Linked DNA regions of Homo sapiens: all the other regions are linked to region 1. The links come from fine-mapping of genetic effects on gene expression. A gene starts in region 1. Each other region holds a variant in brackets. All regions are shown on one strand. Distances are from middle to middle.

What was found. PIP is the estimated chance that this variant, and not a neighbour inherited with it, causes the effect.
Region 2: its variant is fine-mapped to the expression of DGCR8 in CD4 T cells (Kasela 2017, PIP 0.95).
Region 3: its variant is fine-mapped to the expression of DGCR8 in whole blood (INTERVAL, PIP above 0.99).

What each region holds. Positions count from the first base shown.
Region 1 is chr22:20,079,069-20,081,701 of GRCh38, forward strand. It overlaps DGCR8 (DGCR8 microprocessor complex subunit), which reads left to right and starts at 1,173. Exons shown (of 14, transcript NM_022720.7): 1 at 1,173-1,315. RefSeq lists a silencer at 1,052-1,671 and an enhancer at 1,932-1,991.
Region 2 is chr22:20,103,030-20,105,662 of GRCh38, forward strand. All of the region lies in intron 9 of DGCR8 (DGCR8 microprocessor complex subunit), which reads left to right. Among named protein-coding and RNA genes, the nearest start is that of MIR6816, 10 kb to the right of the region's middle. The variant T/C (reference allele first, on the strand shown) is at 1,204.
Region 3 is chr22:20,042,313-20,044,945 of GRCh38, forward strand. It overlaps TANGO2 (transport and golgi organization 2 homolog), which reads left to right. Exons shown (of 9, transcript NM_152906.7): 3 at 1,043-1,131. Among named protein-coding and RNA genes, the nearest start is that of MIR185, 10 kb to the left of the region's middle. The variant G/A (reference allele first, on the strand shown) is at 1,267.

The DNA.
Region 1 (2,633 bases):
CTCACTTACTCAGACCCTCGTTTTCCTTTTTTTTTTTTTTTTTTTTGAGACGGAGTCTCACTCTGCCGCCCAGGCTAGAGTGAAAGTGGTGCTATCTCGGATCACTGCAGCCTGGAACTCCTGGACTCAGGTGATCCTTCCACCTCAGCCTCCCGAGTAGCTCGGACCACAGGCGCCCGCCACCACGCGGCTAATTAAAAATAATTTTGGGCCCGGCGCGGTGGCTCATGCCTGTAATCCCAGCACTTTGGGAGGCCGAGGCGGGCAGATCAATTGAGGCCAGGAGTTTGATACCAGCCTGGCCAACATGGTGAAACCCCGTCTCTACCAAAAATATAAAAATTAGCCGGGCGTGGTGGTGGGCGCCTGTAATCCCAGTTACTCGGGTGGGTGAGCCAGGAGAATCGCTTGAATCCGGGAGGCAAAGGTTGCAGTGAGCTGAGATCGCGCCACTGCACCCCAGCCTGGGAGACAAAGCGAGACACCGCCTCAAAAAAAAAAAAAAAAAGAAAGAAAATTTGTAGATACTGGGCTCTCACTATGTTAGCCAGGCTGGTCTCGAACTCCTGGGCTCAAGTAATCCTCCTGACTCGACCTCCCAAAACTCTGGGATTACAGGCGCAAGCCACCGTGCCCGGCCGAACCACCGTGCCCGGCCGAACCCTCCCTGTTTTGGAAATCCTGTATTAGCAAAGGGGACAGCGCCAGACAGTTGAGCACACGCGTTCTTTATAAATGATGATGTCTGATACAGTGATGCTTTTAACAGGGTTGTGTAACGCCTGTGTGTGCACGGTCTCTTCTGCAGTGTCCACCGAAGGTGGCCCGTCTGCGTGTCCGCTCCCGGCGTACTCCGCGCTCCCTGTTCCCGGCATTCCCCGCGCTCCCCGAGCTTCCCGCGCTCCCCTGCTCCCGGCATTCCCGGTGCTTCCCGTTCCCGGCGCTCCTCGCGGCCGCCGCCCTCAGTCCAGCGAGCCCCGCCTGGGCAGCGACTGTTAGCGCGACCGCGGCCTGGGCGCCTGGTCCCTCCCGCGCGGCCGCGCTATTGGGCCGCGCGCGGCGGACACACGCGCTACGCGCCGCCGATTGGCGGCCTCCGCAGCGCGCTCTGCGGCTCCCCCAATGCGGGGCGGCCGCGCGCGGGGATTGGCCGCACGCCGCGAAGGCCCGCCCTCCGCTCGCCCGGCGCGGCAGGCGGGTGCCGGCGACCGGAGAGCCTGGACAGGCTTTCCAGATGGCTGCGGCGGTCGGTCGGTGAGGCTTTCCCGGCTGTGGTTTGGCTGCGGGCGGCTTGGGCAGCCCGCGGGCGCCTCAGGTAGGTGCGGGGCGCGAGGGGCGCCCGCGGGCGGTTGGGCGGGCGCCGCGGCCTGCGCGAGGGCGCGCCCTTCCCTCCCGCCTCCCTCCGGGACCGAGGCCGCGGGCGGGGCGGGGGCGCGGAGCCCGGCCTTTGTGAGGCAACATGGCCGCGGGCGGTGGAGAGCGCGGGGTGGGGACGCCTCCGGGGCTGGGGGGCGGGCCCCGGGCCCAGGCGTTGCCGACTCTCGTCGCTGTCCGCCCGGGTAAAGAGGCTCCTCTCCCGGAGGGCCCGAAGCCTAGCATCGCCTTCAGGCGGGAAAGGTGTGGACAGGGCCAGTGCTCGCCTGGGACCCTGCCGGCTTTAACACAGTTTGGGAAATCCAAGAAGTCGCCTAAGTCTTTTTGTCCACAGAATGCTCACGGGTTGAGTGTCACGTAGATAATTGGGATACGGTTTTATTGTAACAATGAGCATGGCGGAAATAAATGGAAGGTGGCAACCTGTTGACAGTGATGCCTGTCTGGTGTCAACCGATGGACTTGGGTTTCTTGTGGCAGGAGTCTGATTTGCCTTTTTGCATGCTTGCATGTACCTTGTTCCTGCACGGCAGTCCTGTCTTTGGCTGTCGACTGTTCGAGGCCAACCACCAGGCGAGGATCCACTGTTTCCTGGCCAGACTAGACTCCCAGCTGTGGGAGTGGCCCAAACCCTGCTGCAGGCCTTCACTCACAAAAGGGAGTGAATGGCCAGCCCGGGGTACCCAGTGTTGCCTCTAAGTGCGGGATATGAGGCCTGTTGGAGGATGACAAAAGGAACGGATGAGGTCATACTGCCGCTGGGTTGGGCGGGAGGCTGCAGCGGGAGAGACTTGACCAAAAGGCAGCCTCCATGGCGCTGGCACTGGTGCTGGCCCGTCACAGCCAGTGCCTCTGTTAGCCAACACAGCAAGTGGGCTAGGAGGAAGGGTGCTGTCCAAGTGTACGGGTTTTCTCCCCGTGCCAAGGGTCCAGGGGAGCTTGCCGTGAGCCCGTTCCTGTCCGATAGTCCTGTTGGCAAGGCAGGGTTTGCATGCGGTGTTTGGTCAGCTGGAGCAGTGGGGAGGCCTACGGGCAGAGAGCTCCCCTTTGAGCCCTTTGCGGCCAGGCGCTGTGTGGAGCACTTCCCAGGGGTTGTTTTGTAGTCTCACCGTGACCTTGGGGTAGGAAATGTGCTTCTGGCTGGCTTGCCCAGTCTTAGACTCTCTTGTTGTAGCCCTCTCCTTTGTGATGTCACCCAGCCTCCTGACTTTAATGCCAGCTTTCCTTGACATCTTCACAGCTCCAGCCCTGGCCTCTCT
Region 2 (2,633 bases), 24 kb after region 1:
GCTGAGGCAGGAGAATCGCTTGAACCCAGGAGGCGGAAGGTGAGGTGGCAGTGAGCCGAGATTGTGCCATTGCACTCCAGCCTGGGCAACAAGAGCGAAACCCCATCTTAAAAAAAAAAAAAAAATCTGCCTGCATTTTGATTGGAATTGATCCTGTAGATCAATCTGGGGAGAATGGACATCCTAACAATATTGGATTTTCCAAATCATAAACATAGTTCATCTGTTCATTTATTTAGGTCTTCTTTGATATCTTTCATGGGTGGTCGGCAGTTTTCATCACACAGGCCCTGTGTATATTCTACTAGATTTATAGTTAAATATTTTATGTATGGCACTGTGATGAATAGTACCTTAGTTCCAATTGATTGTTTATTGCTAGCTTACAGAGCTAGAATTTGTTTTATTTGCACTGATTTATTCTAGTAGTTTTTCTGTAGATTCCTTATCCAGTTTTCTTCTCTAATTTGTTAATGTAGTTAATTACGTTGTTTTTTTAAAAATGTGTTCCTGGGATAAGTCCTACTTGGGCATGGTATATGTTCCTTTTCATGTGTTAATGGCTTTAATTTGCTAGTTCCCTGCTGCATCTGTGTTCTTGGTGTTAAGGTCATGGTACGGGTAGTGTCATCAAGCGAAGTGGGAAGTAGCCCTCCTCCTGAGTTTTTCAGAAGGGCAGGACAGATATAGGATTGGTATCATTTCTTCCTTAAAATTTGGGCCTGGAGTTTTCCTAATGGGAAAGTTTTAAACTACTACTGTATGAACTACTAACTATAACTATGACTACTCTGAACTACTGTTGAGTTTCTTGAACAGGTGTAGGGCTGTTGAGGCTACTGAGATAGTTTGTGTCTTGCCAGGCATTGGTCCATCTCATATAGATAGTGGAATGTAGAGGTGTCGGGCGTCTGTGGTGCTCCCACACGGTCCTTTGGCATCTGCCAGGCACTGATTGCTTAGGTTTCTCCTGTGCTGTTTGTCAGAAGCAACAGGGATTTGTCTGCAGGTCACTTCTGCCATCTGTCTGCTCTCATGAGCTGGAGCCTCCACCTGTCCCTGGCGGGTTAACCCTCAGTAGCACATGTGGCCTCAGGCAGCTTGGTGCAGGGCATCCTGGTGTCGGTCTTTTTTTTTTTTTTTTTTGAGACGGAGTCTCGCTCTGTCGCCCAGGCCGGACTGCGGACTGCAGTGGCGCAATCT[T/C]GGCTCACTGCAAGCTCTGCTTCCCGGGTTCACGCCATTCTCCTGCCTCAGCCTCCCGAGTAGCTGGGACTACAGGCGCCTGCCACCGCGCCCGGCTAATTTTTTTTTGTATTTTTAGTAGAGACGGGGTTTCACCTTGTTAGCCAGGATGGTCTCGATCTCCTGACCTCGTGATCCACCCGCCTCGGCCTCCCAAAGTGCTGGGATTACAGGCGTGAGCCACCGCGCCCGGCTGGCGTCGGTCTTTTGCCAGAAACTTCTGAGCGTGCTCTCTAGCTGTGTGTGTGTCAGCCACTGCCTCAGCTTCTCCAGGGCCAGTCCCGAAGCCGTGGGGTATGTGGGTTCTTGTGGGCCGACAGCACTGGACGTTGCTAATTGGTTGGCTGGTTGACAAACCCTTGAGGTTCCAGGGCCTGATGTCTTGGTGAGTGACCTTCCCTGGAAAAAGACCCATGTTGATTTGTGCACTTGAGAGGAGCAGTGTCTTCTGGGGACCTATTTGAAGACAGTAGCCAAGCCATACCTCGAGGATTTTTCGCTTGCCAACCTCAGGGCTAGTGCCTTCCTCTTCTATGCAGTTGCAGCGAGTTGGCCTTGCTGCTTGCTGGAGCGGCGAGGGCAGAGGAGCTGCCCACTGCCCTGTCTGTAGGGCCAGTGTCCCTGTGGAGCGGGCTTGGCACACTGTGGAGCCTGCACAGCGAGGCGTGTGAATCATTTGATTCTAGGTTTCCTCGCTGCCCATGGGCCAGGCAGGCTCCAGGTCCCTGCAGACCCCTCCAGAACAGGGCCAGTGGGGGAAGCACTGTGAGGGTGTGGCTGATGGGTAATCTCCAGTGCTTCAAAGTGTGGTCTTTTTTGGAAAGAGGATGATTGCAGATAGAATTAGGTTAACATGAGATCACACTGAAGCAGAGCAGTGGTGTGATCCAGTGTGTCTGGTGTTTCTCTAAGAAGAGGGAGGAGGGGCAGGGCTAGTAGTCCATATGAAAATCGGAGCAATGCTGCCATAGCCAAGGGATGCCGGGGCCACCAGGAGCTGGCAGAGGCTCCCTAGAGGCTTCTGAAAGAGGATGGCCCTGCTGAGGCCTTGATTTCAGACTTCAGAATGGTGAGAGAATAAACCTCTTGTTCTAAGCCACTGACTTTGTGGTATGTTGTCACAGGAGCTCCACCAGGGAGGTTGTCCATGCTCCAGAGTGGGCTGGATAGCATCTTCCTTTCACCCAGGAGGCACTCTCAGCTTCAGCCAAAGTCCTAGTCTGGGAAGGCACAGTGGGCAATGTCTCTGCACCTCAGCCTGCTGCAGCTTCCCTATGCCTCACTGTGTGGAATCTCCCCATCACCTCTTGTTTCCCTGTCTGCCTCTCTTGTCCTTCCTGTGTGTTCTTGGGTTGGCTGCAGAGCCAGGGTGATGACACTGTTGGAAGCCT
Region 3 (2,633 bases), 37 kb before region 1:
TCTAATGGACATTGCAGGAACTGACCCCTTCCACTCAGTCACTGCTGTGTCCTTATTTGTTTTCTTCTAATGTCCAAGCTGGGACTTGAAAGTCAGTTTTCTTTCCTCAAGACCAGGGCTCTTAAAGTTTAGATGTCTCTCCTAATTCCAAAAGAAATATTTGTTTGATTAGGCTGGATGTGGTGGCTCACACCTGTAATCCTCCGCCTCGGAGGCCGAGGCGGGTAGATCATTTGAGGTCAGGAGTTCAAGACCAGCTTGGCCAACATGGTGAAACCCCATCTCTACTAAAAATACAAAAAATTAGCTGGGTGTGGTGGCGGGTGCCTGTAATCCCAGCTACTCAGGAGGCTGAGGCGGGAGAATAGCTTGAACCCGGGAGGCGGGAGTTGCAGTGAGCCGATGTCACGCCACTGCACTCTAGCCTGGGTGACACAGAGAGACTCCATCTCAAAAAATAAAAATAAATAAAAATGGAAATATTTGTTTGATTCATAATGCAAAAAAACTAGTAAAACAGTGAAGTTCCCATCCACTCCCAACCAACCCGAGAAATTAACTCCAAAACACACAGAATGGAGCAGCCCTCAGAGGCCCACATGCTGTGCCATTCAATCTGTATCCTTGAGCTCACGCTTCCAAGAGCCCACGGGTTTGTTGTGGGTGTTCCCAGGGCTGGGGACAGATGGACAGAAGGAGGAACAGCCCCCCACCCTCCAGCCTGGGCTCCCGGCATGGAGCCCAGGCTCCATGGTGCCCCTAAGGGCCTGGCAGACCCGTCTCCCGCCATTGAATGGTGTGGATGTGTGTCCCTGCCTAGCATCCTCCTGTTTCCCGTGCGGTCCCAGCTGCAGGCTCCCGAGAGCTCACCTGGAGCCACGGTGCTCCTTCCTCCAGTGTGGGTGCAGCAGGACTGCCGGCTTCCTGCCCTCTCTGAGACTGGCCCTTGTTGCCACTGAGGCCAGTTTTGTGTGTGAAAAGAGAAAAAGACTTGGCTCGCTCGTTTCCATCTGAAGCCATCAGTGATGCTTTCCTCTTGCAGGCTCATCTTGGCAGCCAACAGGGATGAATTCTACAGCCGACCCTCCAAGTTAGCTGACTTCTGGGGGAACAACAACGAGATCCTCAGTGGTGAGTCTTCCTGCGTGCTCAGCGGTGGCTGCGCCTTGTTGCTTCCCTAGCCCCTGCGTGGCCCGAGTGACCCTAACTGAGTGGTGCTGCTTCCAAGTGTGATGGCGGGGTGTAGAGGTGGAACTGATGGGGCTC[G/A]TGGTCGGGGCCAGCCCCAGCACCGGGCATTGCCAGAGCTGCCCACCCAGCACTGTCTGCGTGGCTTCCTGTGCCATGCGTCTGCATGGGGGCCCCATCATGTGAAAGCATCAGTTGGTTTTATATGGATCCCTCCTTTTTGCTGAGGGCATGTGGGTGGATTTGTGTGATGTACAGATCCACACTCAGTCACTTTGTGAAGCAACCCAGTCATATGAGTGTGTGCATGCGTGTGTATGCGTGCGTGTGTGTGCCTGTGTTTGTGTTTCTGTTTGTATATGAGCACCCTTGCTTCAGGGATGGTGGGGCTGAGTTTGGGAAGCTGGTGGTGCTGAAGCCCCGTCACCTGCACCATGCCTGTGTTGCATTAGGTGTACTTATAGGGCAGAAGTAGGGGTGAGAACCAGGTCCTCCCCACCAAAGATACCAGCCTCATTGAAGTCCTGTTGGACAGGAACCAGTTCCTGCCCATGGGGTGGTGGGAGTCTACCTGGAAGGTGCGCATAGATGGCTGGTGAGGCCACGGGTTACTCTGCCTGCGTACCAGGCGCCAAGTGGGCCCGAGGCATCCTGGCATGCTCCAGGGTGCCCACTCAGGCCAGATGTGTGACCTCGTGGGCCCATGGAGGCTGTGTGTGCCCTGTGCTGCCTCCCAGGCCGGGAGGGCAGGTGTTGGGATTATAGGTGTGAACCCAACACTTAAGGAGGCTGAGGCAGGAGGATTACTTGAGCCCAGGAGTTCAAGACCAGTCTGGGCAACATGGTAAAACCCTGTCTCTACAAAAAAAAATACAAAAATTAGCCAGGCGTGGTGGCATGTGCCTGTGGCCCCAGCTACTCAGGAGGCTGAGGCTAGAGAATTGCCTGAGCCCGGAAAGCAGAGGTTTCAGTGAGCTGAGATTGTGCCACTGCACTCCAGCATGGGTGACAGAGCGAGACCCTGTCTCATTCAATCAGTCAATCAATCAATCAAATAAAAGCTCAGCTGTGGGGTTTTGTGAGGACTCCTGTGTAGGCCTGTGGCCTGGCAGTAGTGTGAGAATGCTGCTGAGGCTGGGTGGTCCCGGCACCGTGTGGGAGGAGGACGGGTGCATGGAGACTGAGGCAGGGTGGTCCTAGGCCTGCTGGTATAGGAGGATGCAGTGGGTGCAGGGCTGGTCAGGACGGGTGGGTGAAGGCACAAGACTGATGTCCTTGGAAGGTGGAAGGTTTTCATAGATGAAGATGTGGCGGCTCAGAGGGTTACCCTCTTCTGGTTCCTTGACTATTGTGCCCTCCTGGGCTCCATCCCACCCTGGCACCCAGGTCTGTCAGCTGCCTCTGAACTAGTGCCAACCCCAGCAGCTCCAGTCTTGTGGAATTGTTCA